2 separate regions of the Homo sapiens genome follow, and region 1 is linked to region 2. The links come from fine-mapping of genetic effects on gene expression. Tissue or cell type: adrenal gland. Region 2 holds a variant in brackets; the other region holds the start of a gene. All regions are shown on one strand. Distances are from middle to middle.

Evidence for each region. PIP is the estimated chance that this variant, and not a neighbour inherited with it, causes the effect.
Region 1: it holds the start of UPF3B, and the variant in region 2 is fine-mapped to the expression of UPF3B in adrenal gland (GTEx, PIP 0.98). The same link has a PIP of 0.9 or more in skeletal muscle.

The regions. Positions count from the first base shown.
Region 1 is chrX:119,849,546-119,857,650 of GRCh38, forward strand. It overlaps UPF3B (UPF3B regulator of nonsense mediated mRNA decay), which reads right to left and starts at 3,418. Exons shown (of 11, transcript NM_080632.3): 1 at 3,228-3,418; 2 at 2,222-2,328; 3 at 1,950-2,056. The coding sequence starts at 3,383. RefSeq lists an enhancer at 3,393-3,452.
Region 2 is chrX:119,748,116-119,756,220 of GRCh38, forward strand. No RefSeq gene overlaps it. Among named protein-coding and RNA genes, the nearest start is that of SOWAHD, 6.4 kb to the right of the region's middle. RefSeq lists enhancers at 7,997-8,056, 8,067-8,105. The variant C/T (reference allele first, on the strand shown) is at 3,728.

The sequences.
Region 1 (8,105 bases), 100 kb after region 2:
ACCAAAAAACAAAACTGTGATATATTTGAGAAGGAATAGATAAACCAGACTGAAACAGAGGGAAATTGTGGAAGACAGGCTGAAGAAACAGAAGTGAGGCCAGAATATGGAGGACCCTGACTACCAGGCTAAGGAGTTTGGACTTTTTCCCCCAACTGTTAATTTAAATCATTATTTTCAAAAAGATTAATTTCATGGCAATATAATAGACTGAATTATACAAGAATGAAAAAAATGGAAAATCCTGTAAGTTTAGAGACAGTGGTTGTCTAGGCATTAAGTGATGAGGACATAAAGTGTGACTGTTTAAGGCTAGGTGAACAAGATATTAAAAAAAAACAATAAAATCCAGCCTGGGCAACATAAGCAGACCTTGTCTCTAAGATTTAAAAACAAAACAAAACAAACAAACAAACAAAAAACACAATGAGGAAAGGATAGTCTCTTTAATAAGTGGTGTTGAGCTGGGTATGGTGGCTCGCACCTGTAATCCCAGCACTTTGGGAGGCTGAGGTGGGGGGGGGGAAATCACTTGAGCCCAGGAGTTCAAGACCAGCCTGGGCAACGTAGTGAGACCCCATCTCTATAAAAAATTTAAAGAAAATTAGCCAGGCATGGTGACATACATCTGTAGTCCCAGCTACTCAGGAGGCTGAGGTGGGAGGATTGCTTGAGTCCAGGAATTCCAGGCTGCAGTGAGCTCTGATTGCGCCACAGCACTCCAGCCTGGGTGGAGACCCTATCTCAAAAGATAAACAATAAATTGACAAGATTCATAACTTACATGTAAGAGATTTTTAAAAAAGGAAAAAATTAAACACAACTCAGATTTCCAGGCTAAGTAACTAGAATCTAGTTAAATATCTACTGGAATAAAATAGTTGGAGTGGAAAAATAGCTGGCTTGGGGAGATTAATAAAAGTTGGACAAACAGTGGCAATCCTTCAATTTTTACTGGCATAGTCCCTGACAAAAATTTAATTTTTACCAACTTTGAAGTAATATTGAAAAAAACAAAACAAAACAAGAAGACACACTATTTACCTATAATTGCAAACCAAAAAGAAAAGTGGCAAATGGCAGCTTAGATATTCTCTGGCTAAATGTAGGTAGCAGATAATAGAGTGTTAAAGTAGAAATGTGTCTTCCCTATAGACTGGACCTTTCTGGATATAAAGTAAGAGATGTATCAAGTTTCTTTTTTTCGATTTTGAGACAGAGTCTCGCTCTGTCGCCAGGCTGGAGTGCAGTGGCGTGATCTCAGCTCACTGCAACCTCTGCCTCCCAGGTTCAAGCGATTCTTCTGCCTCAGCCTCCCAAGTAGCTGGGATTACAGGCGTGGACCGCCACGCCTGGCTAATTTTTTTAGCATTTTTAGTAGAGATGGGGTTTCACCACGTTGGCCAGGCTGGTCTCGATCTCCTGACCTCGTGATCCACCTGCCTCGGCATCCCAAAGTGCTGGGATAACAGGCGTGAGCCACCACACCAGGCCGAGATGTATCAAGTTTCATGTTTTAATTATATACAACTTTGTGAGAATGTTAAACAGTATCCCAATTGGGAACTGTTGGCTTAATGGATTTGAATTAAATAAATGTTTGTCCTCGAAGCAAAATAAGAAGTAAATATTTAAAACTTATCAAACAAGTTTAAGAGTCACTTATCAGTACTGCGGCTGAAATTCTACAGTCAAAACAGCAGGTTTAAGCCAGGGCAAAAAATGTGTCACACGAGGAGAAAACAGTTGCAATTTCACTCAGTTGATCAAACTAAAAAAATAGTAGGTTAATAAAAATAACCAAGGACTGTGAAAAGTCACGTCTATTTATAAGACTGCAATAAGCTTATTAAATGTGTAAAACTCTAGGAAGCAACGCAATGCACGAGTTGTCTTAAACATACAAATGACAAAGAAATTCCCTTTTTACTTCAGTTACCAGGACTCACCTTTATTGTCAAGGAATACATAACCATCAAAGCGATCCCTGAACAAAATAATGTCCTCTTGGTTTTTAAAGTTGATGTATGCTCTGGCATACATATGAGGATACAAACTGCAGAGAGGAAAGCAATTATGTAAATGTACTCGCAGGTGTCTGGCCCAATTACAAGTATGCATATATTAAAGACAAGCTCAAAAATCAAATGAAAAACAGTAGGATAAAAAGAATGAAAGAAACCTTTTTCATTTACCCCTTTCCTTTTTTTTTTTTTTTTACCTCGTATCATTAGAAAAAAACTCAAAATAATCATGCTCAGGCATAGGTTGAAGATGTTCCTGAAGCTGCTCCTTGGTCAAAGTGGGAGGTAATCTTCGAATTACCACCTTAAGAAATGCATAAGGAAAATAAAATTAGTACAAATCAGTTTTCTGTCATACCTGAAAGAATCACAGTTCCTGAAGAAGGCTGGGCTTTAAAATATGAGATCACTTGTAAAAACCCAGGAGAAAATATTCTTCTGCAGCCCAATGCTCAGAATTAGTCAAACATAATAGTAACGCGGTTTAAAAAAACCCTTGGAAATGAGAACCACCTGGAGCAAGGAAAAATCGCAGGTTTTGCTCTTTACAGCAGCCCTGCAGTTTACCAGGTTTGTGCATCATTTTCGATCACCCATTTTTTAACAGATCTAGTGGCAATAACTTAGTAAGCCAACGCTGGTCTTTGTGGGTGCCACGAAATCTTGATTTAGCAACAAGTTTCTCCCACGTCCAACACATCTTAAAACAAAATCCTTGCCCATTGAACTTAAGAATTCAAAACTCTAACGAATACAAAAAATCTACCCATTGCTCTCAAAATAGGATGCTCTCGATCTACCCTCCTGTACCATTAATCACCCTGCACTCTCCCCCAACTCGCCTCCATGAATAATATTCCCATCCCTCATGTCTCCTTCACTATTTAATATTTCTCCCCAATTACACCTTTAGTTCCTCATTCTTTATACCGTCGCTCTTCCCTCCCATTATCATCTCACAGCTCTGACCTAAACCCTTCCCGTTTGGGGAGTCCCCTCTTTTCCTCACCCCCACCCAGGATTTGGCCGGGAGGGGCTCTCCCCATTTCGGGTGAATGGATGAACCAGGATGATGCGACTTCCATTCAGGCGAAGAGATAGAAGGAGAACCTGAGAAAGAAAGGGGGCAGCCCCATTCCCAGCCATCCTCCCCGCGCTGCGGACTCGTCCCGCCCTCTCCCGGGCCAGCGGCCGACCGGGCACCTTGCTCAGCGCTTCTTTCTTCTCCTTGTTGCGATCCTGCTTATCTTCCCCCTTGGAGCTGTCCCCCGAGGTCCCACCACCGCTGCCTGTGGCCCCGGCGGGGGTTAACAGGGTTACTCGCTTCTCCTTAGGCCTGTGCTCCTTCTCTTCCTTCATGGCTACGTCCCCCGCTGAAGCGGCTTGGCCGGAACGGGGTTACCCCGGGCACAAACGGCTCCCGGGAAGCTCCCGTCAAAGCTCCGCCCCCAACAAATGCCCCTTGTGATAAGTCGGGCCCCACGTTCCATTGGGTCCTGCCAAGCTCTCGCGAGACTTGGGCCTTTCCCAGTGCAAAGGTTTTAACACCTGGTTTTTACTTCCCGCCCGCCAAGTTCCTGCGCCACCCAATCCCCTCGCGGCCCAGACTCCCTCGGGGCCCGCCCCTTCGCGCGTCATTAGCAATTCCGCCATCTTGAAGTGACTCTGTCGGGGACTACAAATCCCGGCATACAAAGCAGCTACCCGCTTTTGTTGGGCGTTCAGGGGCCAGAGCTATCTCAGGGTCCCTGTTTGTGAGTAAATCGAATCCTTTCATCTTCAGAGTTTTCCAGGTCGAAAGATAGGTTCTTCACGCTTAGTTTCCATCAGATAAACTCAATGCCGTCCAAATTTTGCCTCACTAGGGGAGCGACTTGTATTTTTTATCATTGAATTCAGAGGCTTTAGCATTTATTTTCCTACAACTAAAAGAAAAAGCCTAACATTTAAAAAACTTTATTTTCCTTATATTGATTAGGATTTACAGATACTTAGTAAATACTACAATATTAGCCGAGTTCAGTGGCGCACGCCTGTAGTCCCAGCTGCTCGGGAAGGTTGAGAAGAGAGGATCTTGAGCCCAGGAATTCGAGGCTGCAGTGAGCCATGATCGCGCCGCTGCACTCCAGCTTGGGCGACAGAGCGAGACCCTGTATATAAAAAAGAAGGATAATAATAAATAAACACAAGATACTGATATTTAAAGGAGTAATATGACTAAAATATACAAGATTTGTTTTCATCACCTTATTTTAGCAAAAGGATCCTTCTCCCCAGGTACTGATGTCCCACAGGGAGGGGAATAAAAATAAAACCCAACTTGATTTAGTTGCGATCACCATCTTCACTTAAAAAGGGCCAATTTTACATTATTTATAATAACTCCAAACTGGAAACAATCCAAATGTGAATCTAACAGTGATTATGTTGAGTGACAGAATCTAGACACAGAGTACATGTTGTACAATTCCATTTATATGAAATTTTAGAAAAATAAAACCACAGTGATAGAAAGCAGATCAGTCGGCCAGGCGTGGTGGCTCACGCCTGTAATCCCAGCACTTTAGGAGGCCAAGGTGGGTGGATCACCTGAGGTCAGGAGTTCGAGACCAGCCTGGCTAACTTGGCGAAACCCTGTCTCTACTAAAAACAAAAAAAATTAGCAGGGCGTGGTGGCACATTCCTGTAATCCCAGCACTTTGAGAGGCCGAGGCCGGCGGATCACCTGAGATCAGGAGTTCGACACCAGCCTGGCCAACTTGGTGAAACCCTGTCTCTACTAAAATACAAAAATTATCTGGGCATGGTGGCAGGCGCCTGTAGTCCCAGCTATTTGGGAGGCTGAGGCAGGAGAGTCACTTGAACCTGGGAGGCGGAGGTTGCAGTGAGCCGAGGTTGTGCCACCGCACTCCAACCTGGGTGACAGAGTGAGACTCCATCTCAAAAAGAGAGAGAGACACAGACACCCATAGAGGACAGAAACCAAATTAAAGATGCAATAGGAGCCCAAGGCAGAAAGCTGCCTAAGGGCCAACTCCCATTTTTGCCGACCTCTAGAATATATTCCCCTGACTCTGCACTTAAATTTTCTCACTCCAATTGTCCAGCCTATTCTTGGATTCCTATTCCTGTGGCTAAAACGGTTTCCCTGTATTTGACATCTGTTACTCTTGCTTTCAGTACCTGGCCGTTCTTATGAGCCTTGTTTATGCATCTGCCTCTGACCTACTGCTTAGCTCTGCACTTGCATGTTGGTAGTGTATGCCTCTGTTTTGGTGTCCTCACTAGCTTTAAACCACCAGCTGTTTGTCAGTTGCCAGAATAAAGTGTCCCAGGGCTCAGTCCTTAGACCTCTTTTCTATGTACACTCACTCCTTTATTAATCTCATTCATTCTTTTGGCTTTTCTGTCTTTGCTGACAACTCTACTCTAGAATTTACATGTCCAGGCCGGGCGTGGTGGCTCACAGCTGTAATCTCAGCACTTTGGGAGGCCGAGGCGGGTGGATCACCTGAGGTCGGGAGTTCGAGACCAGCCTGGCCAACATGTGACATCCCGTCTCTACTAAAAATACAAAAAAATTAGCCGGGCGTGGTGGCAGGCAGCTATAATCCCAGCTACTCAGGAGGCTGAGGCAGGTGATTCGCTTGAACCCAGGAGGTCGAGGTTGCAGTGAGCCGAGATTGTGCCAGTGCACTCCAGTCTGGGCGACAGAGCGAGACTCCGTCTCAAAACCAAAACAAAACAAAAAAAGAATTTACATCTCCAGCCCATACCTCCCTGATGATTTCCAGAGTCATGTATCCAACTGCCTATTGAACATCTCCACTTAAGACGTCTAACGTGTTCAGCCACCGAATGCATCCAAAACTGAACACTTGATCTTCCCCCACACCAACTGTATTAGCCTCCTATTCCTGCTGTAACATTACCACAAATTTAGTGGGTTTAAATAATGCAAGTGTATTATCTTACAGTTCTGTAGGTTAAAAGTCCAACAAGGTTTTAGCTTTGTCCTGTGAGGGGGCAAAAAAATATAGTAATAATAAATAAACAAACAGTCCAATATGGGTCTCACTGGGCTAAAATCAAGGTGTTGGCAGGACTGAGTTCCTTCCTGGAGGCTCTAGGAGATAATAGATTTCCTTGTCTTTTTCAGATTCTTGAGGCGGCCCATATTCCTTGGCTTATGAACCCTTCGTCTTCAAGCATCTCTCTCTGACCCTGCCCCTACTTCTGTCTATTGTCTATATCTCTTTTATTCTCTGCCTTGCCATTCCAAGTTTTTTTTTCAGGGTCACAGTTCACTGAAGGCTTAAACTCCTGAGCTGAAGTGATCCTCCTGCCTTAGCCTCCCAAATAGCTGGGACTACAGGTGCATGCCACCATGCCCAGCTAATTTATTTTCATTTTTGTAGAGAAGGGGTCTCACTGTGTTGCCCAGGCTGGTCTCCAACTCCTGGCCTCTGCACTTTCCCCTTTCACTTTGAAGGACTCCTGTGTTTACATTGTGTCCGCCTGTAAAATCCAGGATAATCTCCCTATTTTAAGGACAGCTGATTAGCAACATTAATTTCCTTTTGCTATATAACCTAACACAGTCATGGGTTCTGGGGATTAGGATGTGTACAACTTTGGGGGAGATATTATTCTACCTAACACATACTGTAGACTTCCTTTTTGATGAAACTTTTAATTGCAGTATAACAGATGTACAGACAAGTGCACTAAAAGTAAGCATCCAGCTTGCTGAATTTTCACAAAGTGAACACACTTATGTAACCAGCATGTAGATCAAGAAACAAAACATTGCCAGCACTCCAGATGCTCTCTTCCTACTTGTTCCCAGTCATTTTCGCCACCAAGAATACCACTATCCTTTTTGCTTTTTCTTTTTTAGCAGCTACATCCTTTTATGAATGACTTCTAATACTATTGAGTTTGTCTGTTTTGAACTTTATGTAAATTGAATCATACAGCATGTATTCTTTTATGTTAGGCTCCTTTCTCTCAACATTTATGACTGAGATTTCTTTATTTATTTATTTAGAGACGGAATCTCGCTCTGTCGCCCAGGCTGAGGTGCAGTGGCGCCATCTTGGCTTACATCTTGGCTCACTGCAACCTCCACCTCCCGGGTTCAAGCGATTCTTCTGCCTCAGCCTCCCGAGTAGCTGGGAGTACAGGCGTGTGCCACCACGCCCGGCTAATTTTTGTATTTTTAGTAGAAATGGGGTTTCACCATATTGGCTGTTGGATACAGTGAGATCTAGATCTCTCTTCAAAGAATCAGTATGTCAGTATGTTCAGTTCTTTGTCCTCCATTGTAAAGTTTAACTTCCTCGTAGTTTCAGTAAACAACATTTTCCACCAGTTTTCATCAGTAGTTCACATCTGTTCCCCTGGTTACCTGCTCCGTCCTGACTCACCCCGGTCATCCGCTTTGACCTGAGTCACCCCTGGTCCCTGCTCTGACCTAAGTCACCTTTAGTTACCTGTTCCTAACCGTCCTTCCCACCAAACTATTCACCCCGCCACTCTGGCTCATACCCCTGGTCTCTTTAAAGTAGCCAATCAGAATTAGCTTAGACTGTGCAGTCCAACCCTAGCCAATAGGGGAGCGACACAGCAGTAGGGGCTACCTGTGTCAGGAATAAGAACCCCTTCCCCTCCCTTGTTCAGGTGTGCTCTTGCCATTACTCCATTCACGAGTCGCACCCTTCTATAGAAGTAAAAATTGTCTTGCTGTGAAAATTAAATTTATGTTCGAGTGCTATTTCTTTGTGGCACCGAGGAACAAGCATTTTGTTTCTAACATTGGCCAAGCTGGTCTTGAACTCCTGACCTCGTGATCCGCCCGCCTCGGCCTCCCAAAGTGCTGGGATTACAGGCTTGAGCCACCACGCCCAGCTTATTTATGTTATATGTAGCTGTGGATTATTCCTTTTCACTGTTACATAATATTCCATTGTATGAGTCTGCTGCAATTTATCCCACTCTTAGGGGCTAATACAAATAGTGCTGCTGGGATTTTAGTGCATATTGTTTGATGATTCATGTCAGATACATACCTAGGAGTGG
Region 2 (8,105 bases):
GTGAAACTCATCTCTACAAAAAATACAAAAATTAGCCTGGCATGGTGACACACGCCTGTAGTCCCAGATACTTGGGGGCCTGGGGGTGAGGATCACTTGAGCCCAGGAGGTTGAGGTTGCAGTGAGCTGTATTCTTAACACTGCACTCCAGCCTGGGGAACAGAGTGAGACCCTGTCTCAAAAAAAGAAAAAAAAAAAGATGTTTTAAAAACGAAGCATATGCAATCACATTCTCTTGTGAAAAAATTAATAATAAAATTTTAATGAATATCCAAATAGTTTTGTACTACAAGCATTATAAAACTGTAAATTATTTTAAACTATATTTTATCTTTGTCTCATCCTTTTAAAATTTCCTTTTTGTGTATGCTTTATAATATACATATTTCATAGAGTAATACACACACATCATTTTGAAATTGCAAAATATTCACGAATGTTGAGAATATCTGCTCAAAATATTTTTATTATAGGGGCATGCAATTTAAAACGTTGGGACACCAGCCTTGGCAATATGGTGAGATCCCATCTCTAAAACAATTTTTAAAAAATTAGCTGGGACTGGGTGCAGTGGCTCACGCCTGTAATCCCAGCACTTTGGGAGGCCAAGGCAGGCGAATCTCCTGAGGTCAGGAGTTTGAGACAACATGGCGAAACCCTGCCTCTACTAAAAATCAAAAAAATTAGCTGGGCGTGGTGGTGGGCACCTGTAATCCCAGCTACTCGGGAGGCTGAGGCAGGAGAATCGCTTGAACCCGGAAGGTGGAGGTTGCAGTGAGCCAAGATGGCATCATGGCACTCCAGCCTGGGCAACAAGAGCGAAATTCTGTCTCAAAAAACAAACAATTAGCTGGGCATGGTGGCACATGCCTGTACTCCCAGCTACTCAGGAGGCTGAGGTGGGAGGATGGTTTGAGCCCAGGAGTTAGAAGCTGCAGTGAGCTATGATGGTGCCACTGCACTCCAGCCTGGGTGACACAGCCAGATTCCCATCTCAAAAAAAAAAAAATTGGAGATTATTGCTTTAATATCTACCATAATGTTAAGCATCATGAATGTGATGTGATTAGCATAGTGTTTGGCACATATTAAGGCCTCAATGAGTGTTGGCTTTTACAACATCCTCTATGTAAATGAGGGATGCATTAGACCCAGTGTAACATGATGGTTAAAAGTATGAGCCTTGGAATCAGTTGAAGCTGGATGGGTTTCCTGCCAATTACTAGCTGTGTGAACGTGGTCAATTAACTTCATTGGGCCTCAGATTCTCATTAGTCTCTTAGAGTTGTTGTAAAGATTAAGGGACATAATGCACTTTATGGCAACAGCTTTACTGAGCTATAATTCACATACCATACAATTCACTTTTTTTTTTAAACGAAGTTTAGCTTTCGTTGGGCAGGCTGGGGTGTAATGGTGTGATCTCGGCTCACTGCAACTTCCACTTCCCAGGTTCAAGCGATTTTCCTGCCTCAGCCTCCTGCGCAGCTGGGATTACAGGCATGCACCACCAAGCCCGGCTAATTTTGTATTTTTAGTAGAGATGGGGTTTCATCAAGTTGGCCAGGCTGGTCTTGAACTCCTGAGCTCAGGTGATCTGCCCACCTCGGCCTCCCACCGTGCTTGGATTACAGCCATGAGCCACTGCGCCCAGCAACTCACCACTTTAAAGTGTATATTTCAGTGCTTTTTAGTATATTCACAAGGCTGTGCAACCATCACCGTGTCTGGAATTGGTGGGTTTTTGGTCTCACTGACTTCAAGAAGGAAGCCGCGGACCCTCGCGGTGAGTGTTACAGCTCTTAAGGTGGCGCGTCTGGAGTCTGTCCCTTCTGATGTTCAGATGTGTTTGGAGTTTTTTTCTTCTGGTGGGTTCGTGGTCTCACTTGCTCAAGAGTGAAGCTGCAGACCTTCCCGGTGAGTGTTACAGCTCTTACGGCAGCGCGTGGGGAGTTGTTCATTCCTCCCAGTGGGCTCGTAGTCTCACTGGGCTCAGGCGTGAAGCTGCAGATTTTGGCGGTTAAGTGTTACAGCTCATAAAAGCAGCGTGGACCTAAAGAGTAAGCATTAGCAAGATTTATTGCAAAGAGTGAAAGAACAAAGCTTCCACAGTGTGGTAAGGGACGGGAGCGGGTTGTCAATGCTGCTTCGGGCAGCCTGCTTTTATTCTCTTATCTGGCCCCACCCACATCCTGCTGATTGGTAGAGCCCAGTGGCCTGTTTGGTCAGGGCGCTGATTGGTGCGTTTACAATCCCTGAGCTAGATACAAAGGTTCTCCACGTCCCCATCAGATTAGTTAGATACAGAGTTTTGACACACAGGTTCTCCAAGGCCCCACCAGAGCAGCTAGATACAGAGTGTCGATTGGTGCATTCAAAACCTTGAGCTAAACACAGGGTGCTGATTGGTGTGTTTACAAACCTTGAGCTAGATACAGAGTGCCGATTGGTGTATTTACAATCCCTGAGCTAGACATAAAGGTTCTCCAAGGCCCCACCAGAGCAGCTAGATACAGAGTGTCGATTGGTGCACTCACAAACCTTGAGCTAAACACAGGGTGCTGATTAGTGTATTTACAATCCCTCAGCTAGACATAAAGACTCTCCACTTCCCCACCAGACTCAGGAGCCCAGCTGGCTTCACCTAGTGGATCCCGCACTGGGGCCGCAGGTGGAGCTGCCTGCCAGTCCCGTGCCGTGTGCTTGCACTTCTCAGCCCTTGGGCGGTCGATGGGACTGGGCGCCGTGGAGCAGGGGGTGGTGCTCGTCGGGGAGGCTGGGGCCGCACAGGAGCCCATGGAGTGGGTGGGAGGCTCAGGCATGGCGGGCTGCAGGTCCCGAGCCCTGCCCCGCGGGAAGGCAGCTAAGGCCCAGCGAGAAATCCAGCACAGCGCCGGTGGGCCGGCACTGCTGGGGGACCCAGTACACCCTCCACAGCCACTGGCCACTGGCCTGGGTGCTAAGTCCCTCATTGCCCGGGGCCGGCAGGGCCGGCCGGCTGCTCCGAGTGCGGGGCCCGCCAAGCCCACGCCCACCCAGAACTCCAGCTGGCCCGCAAGCGCTGCGCGCAGCCCCGGTTCCTGCTCGCGCCTCTCCCTCCACACCTCCCTGCAAGCTGAGGGACCTGGTTCTGGTCTTGGCCAGCCCAGAAAGGGGCTCCCTCAGTGCAGCGGCGGGCGGAAGGACTCCTCAAGTGCCGCCAAAGTGGGAACCCAAGCAGAGGAGGCGCCGAGAGCAAGCGAGGGCTCTGAGGACTGCCAGCACGCTGTCACCTCTCATCACCACTATCTAATTCCAGAATATTTTCAACACCCCCAAAGAAACCCATACCCATTAGCAATCATTCTCTATTCTCCCTCTTCCCTCATGCCTGCCTTGACAACCACTGACCTACTTTCTGTTTGTATGGATTTGCCTCGTCTGGACATCTCCTGTAGGAATCAGAAGAGTCTTTTGTGTCTGGTTCTTTCACTTAGCATAGTATTTTTCACATTCCTCCATGTTGTAGCATGTGTCAGTTATTTCGTTCCTTATTTTTTATTTATTTATTTTTTTTGAGACGGAGTCTTGCTCTGTCGCCCAGGCTGGCGTGCAGTGGCGCGATCTCGGCCCACTGCAAGCTCCGCCTTCCCGGTTCACGCCATTCTCCTGCTTCAGCCTCCGGAGTAGCTGGGACTACAGGTGCCCGCCACTATGCCCAGCTAATTTTTTGTATTTTTAGTAGAGA[C/T]GGGGTTTCACCGTGTTAGCCAGGATGGTCTTGATCTCCTGACCTCGTGATCCGCCCTCCTTGGCCTCCCAAAGTGCTGGGATTACAGGCGTGAGCCACCGCGCCCGGCCTTTTTTTTTTTTTTCCGAGACTGAGTCTCGCTTTATCACCCAGGCTGGAGGGCAGTGGCGCAATCTTGGCTCACTGCAACCTCCGCCTCCAGGGTTCAAGCGATTCTCATGACTCAGCCTCCCAAGTAAGTGGGATTACAGGCGCCCACCACCACGCCCAGCTAATTTTTGGGGTTTGTTGTTGTTGTTGTTTTTGAGATGGAGTCTCGTTCTGTCTCCCAGGCTGGAGTGCAGTGGCACAATCTTGGCTCACTGCAACCTTCACCTCCCAGGTTCAAGCAATTCTCCTGTCTCAGCCTCCAGCATAGCTGGGACTGCAGGCACGCACCACCATGCCCGGATAATTTTTGTAGTTTTAGTAGAGATGGTGTTTTACCATATTGGTCAGGCTGGTCTCAAACTCCTGACCTCAGGTGATCCACCCACCTCGGCATCCCAAAGTGCTGGGATTACCGGTGTGAGCCACTGCATCTGGCAATTTTTGTATTTTCTTTTTTCAGTAAAGACAGGGTTTTACCATGTTGGCCAGGCTGGTCTCGAACTCCTGATCTTAGGTGATCTGCCCGACTCAGCCTCCCAAAGTGCTGGGATTACAGGCGTGAGCCACTGTGCCTGGCCTATTTCATTCCTTTGTATGGCCAAATAACATTCCATGGTATGGATATACTATGGATATCGGGATTGTTTCTACCTTTTGGCTATTGTAAATAGTTCTGCTGTGACCATTCATGTATGAAAATGCATATTTAATGCTTGGCACAGGACCTAAGTCACCAGCCACCTAAGTGCTTAATGAACAGTAGGCAGCTGTAATCACTGTTATTACAGAGTGCTACGTTAGGTGATCTGGGGTACAGGATGCCTGGATGTCAGAAATAGATGGCTGAAGGCGCCAAGGACAACATTTACCCACTGCACAATTTTATTAAGAGCTGTTCCTGTCAGCCGTACCCAAATGTACAGTATGGCAGCATCAAACAGAGGCATGAGCACGGACCCTGCTCTACCACTTTCGAGACGCGTGACCCTGGGCAGGCCACTTAACCTCCCTCAGCCTTGTGTGTGAATTGCATATAAATACTGTCTTCTCTACATATCTCACAAGCTTGCTGTCTGGGTCAAGAGATAATTAAAAATATGAAAGCACTCTGAAAACTAAGAGTTTATTATTCCAAGCCTTACGTATGACAGAAGCCAACTGATAAAGTAAGGAAGGAACCACTTTGTACTGCTCACTGGCCTCCCCCTCTCTCCTGATGGTTCACATTCCTTTCAAGATGAGGCCAGCCCCCTCACCCCTAGGGCTAGTACCTTCTTCCCAGCAACTACTTAAGGGCCAATGACCTGCTCCAGGGTAGAAGCCTGAATTCATATAAACAAAGGGCTTATTGCTGGGCGCAGTAGCTCACGCCTGTAACCCCAGCACTTTGGGAGGCAGAGGTGGGTGGATCACTTGAGGCCAGGAGTTCAAGACCAGCCTGGCCAACACAGGGGAATGACATCTCTACTAAAAATACAAAAATTAGCTGGGTGTGGTGGTACACACCTGTAATCCCAGCTACTCGGGAGTCTGAGGCAAGAGAATCGCTTGAACCTGGGAGGCAGAGGTTGCAGTGAGCCGAGATCGTGCCACTGCATTCCAGCCTGGGTGACAGAGTGAGACTGTCTCAAAACAAAACAAAACAAAACAAAACAAAAGGGCCTGTTGCTGGGCGCGGTAGCTCATGCCTGTAATCCCAGCACTTTGGGAGGCTGAGGTGGGAGGATCGCTTGACCCTAGGAGTTCAAGACCAGCCTGGGCAACATAGCGAGACCCTGTCCTAAAAAAAAAAAAAATTAAACAAAGGGCCTGCCATGCCTCTTTCGTTGCCTACAGGTTGAAACAGACACAGCCTTTCTACTTTTCTCAGTTGCTAGTTGGTCAGAGCGCCCTCATGTGTCTCCATATGGTAATACCTTAAGTCTTTTACAGGATGTGGCATTCTTTTAATCTCAGTATCAATAAAATGTGTAATGGAAATTTTTTTCTCGTCACACTTCAAAGCCCATGCTTGACTCTCAGGCTCCAATTAAGCCATTCCAGCTTGAGTTTAGGCAGGTTTCCTGCTTCCACTCAGGCCTACAGATTTCTTCCTGCTCCCTGCCCACCCCTTTCTCCTTAGTCATTTTTAGAAGCCCTGGTGTCAACTTGGTTCTACCACTTTCTACTCTTCCAAGCTCAGTAAGCTCTCAAAATAAGATTGTAAGTTCTTTTTTTAACTGGATACATCAGGTCTTACTGCAGGATTGGCGGGGGAGGGGGGTGGGAAGGTGGGGGTAATTCCAAAGTACTAGGAAATAATTTTTAAAGTGTTTACCAAATATGACTTGTTCCATAGTCTAAGGAAAAGGGATCCAAAATGAGATCTCATGTAAAGGTCTGACATTTGGGAAGGGGAAAGTGATGTTTGGCAGAGTACATACACACAGACACATACACATTATACACACAACCAGACAGTGATGTCTGGTACACATACATACCACTCAAACATCCATTCTTGCACACACATTCACATGCAAACAGAGAGAAAGGAGCTCTCTCTCTTTCATAGGTTTCTCATTGAGAATCATGATGATATCAGCACAGGTCTTTGGAGGAAAGGAAATTTACATTCTATATCTGGAACCCCAAGAATGTTCCAGCCGTGTGTGGTGGCTCACACCACCGGGTGTGGTGGGAGGCCAAGGTGGGTGGATCACTTGGGGCCAGGAGTTCGAGACCAGCCTGGCCAACATGGTAAAACCCCGTCTCTACTAAAAATACAAAATTTAGCTGAGAATGGTGGTGCACGTCTGTAATCCCAGCTACTCAGGAGGCTGAGGCATGAGAATCACTTGAACCAGAGAGGCGGAGGTTGCAGTGAGCCGAGATCACACCACACTGCACTCCAGCCTAGGCAACAGATGGGACTCCGTCTCAAAAAAAAAGAAAGAAAGAAAAAAAAAAGAATGTTCCCCATTCCCTCCATGACCGAGGGTTATGGACGCCTGAGGGACTTTACTTCCCATATTCCACACATCTGCTTCTCAACTGTTTTGCACTCATGGATTTTTCTGAATCCATAAGCCCCCGGGGCAAACTCCATTGAGAGCCCAAGGATACACCAGCATTTGGCTTCGCCCAAGGAGCATGTTTCTGAGAAGTTTCATGTAAATTAAATTTTTGCAGATCAACTATGATTTCCTACTGACATCCCCTAAGATTTCTGAGCTGCTCTCTTCATCAAGATAGATTTTCAGTGTACGCCTAACACATCAGCTTCTCTGTTCCTCTGCCTTCTGCCATGCTCCCTGAGTTAGTTAAACCTCATCTGGAAAATAAAGGCCAATGAAACATTAAGATCTCTTCTAGTTCTTTTTTTTTTTTTTTTTTTGAGACGGAGTCTCGCTCTGTCACCCACACTACAGTGCAGTGGCGTGATCTCAGCTCACTGCAAGCTCCACCTCCCGGGTTCACGCCATTCTCCTGCCTCAGCCTCCCGAGTAGCTGGGACTACCCACCACCACGGCCGGCTAAGTTTTCGTATTTTTTAGTAGAGACGGGGTTTCACCGTGTTAGCCAGGATGGTCTCGATCTCCTGACCTCGTGATCAGCCTGCCTCGGCCTCCCAAAGTATTGGGATTACAGGCATGAGCCACCGCGCCCAGCCGATCTCTTCTAGTTCTAATAGTCCAAGATCTAGTAAATAAACCCACAAATATATTAGAGAGGCTGCTATTTGGAAAAGACATCAGTATTATTACAATTTGCAATGCAAATATCTACTCTACCTCCAGCTTTTTGGGAAGTCATTTCCCAGGGCTTGAGGGGTTTTTGCCCCACTCCCTTGGAGGGGTAGCAGATGTTTCAGATAACTGGCATGTTAATTTTAGGTGGGTGGGTACTATCCCTTCTGTTTTCCACTCCCTCTGCCCTACTCCCTGCTATCAAATTCCTGAGACCCTCTCTACTAAAATAGAGATGGGTGTTGCGGTTCTGGGGAGTGGTGTGTGCAGCTGGTGACCTAGGGTAGAAAGCACTTGCTAATTAAAGATGAAACAAGTTGCTAGGGAGGCACCGTGGCTTTGGTCTCTAGCAGCAGAGTTAAGCAAGGGCACATGTATCATGGGTCTGTGGCACTGGTCAGGCGGCTGCCTTTGCAATCTTTGAACTGGAAACAGATATTATTCATGCTGATAGGGAAGAGAGTTGCCTGCTTAGTGGTGACGAAAATTAATAGTCCAAG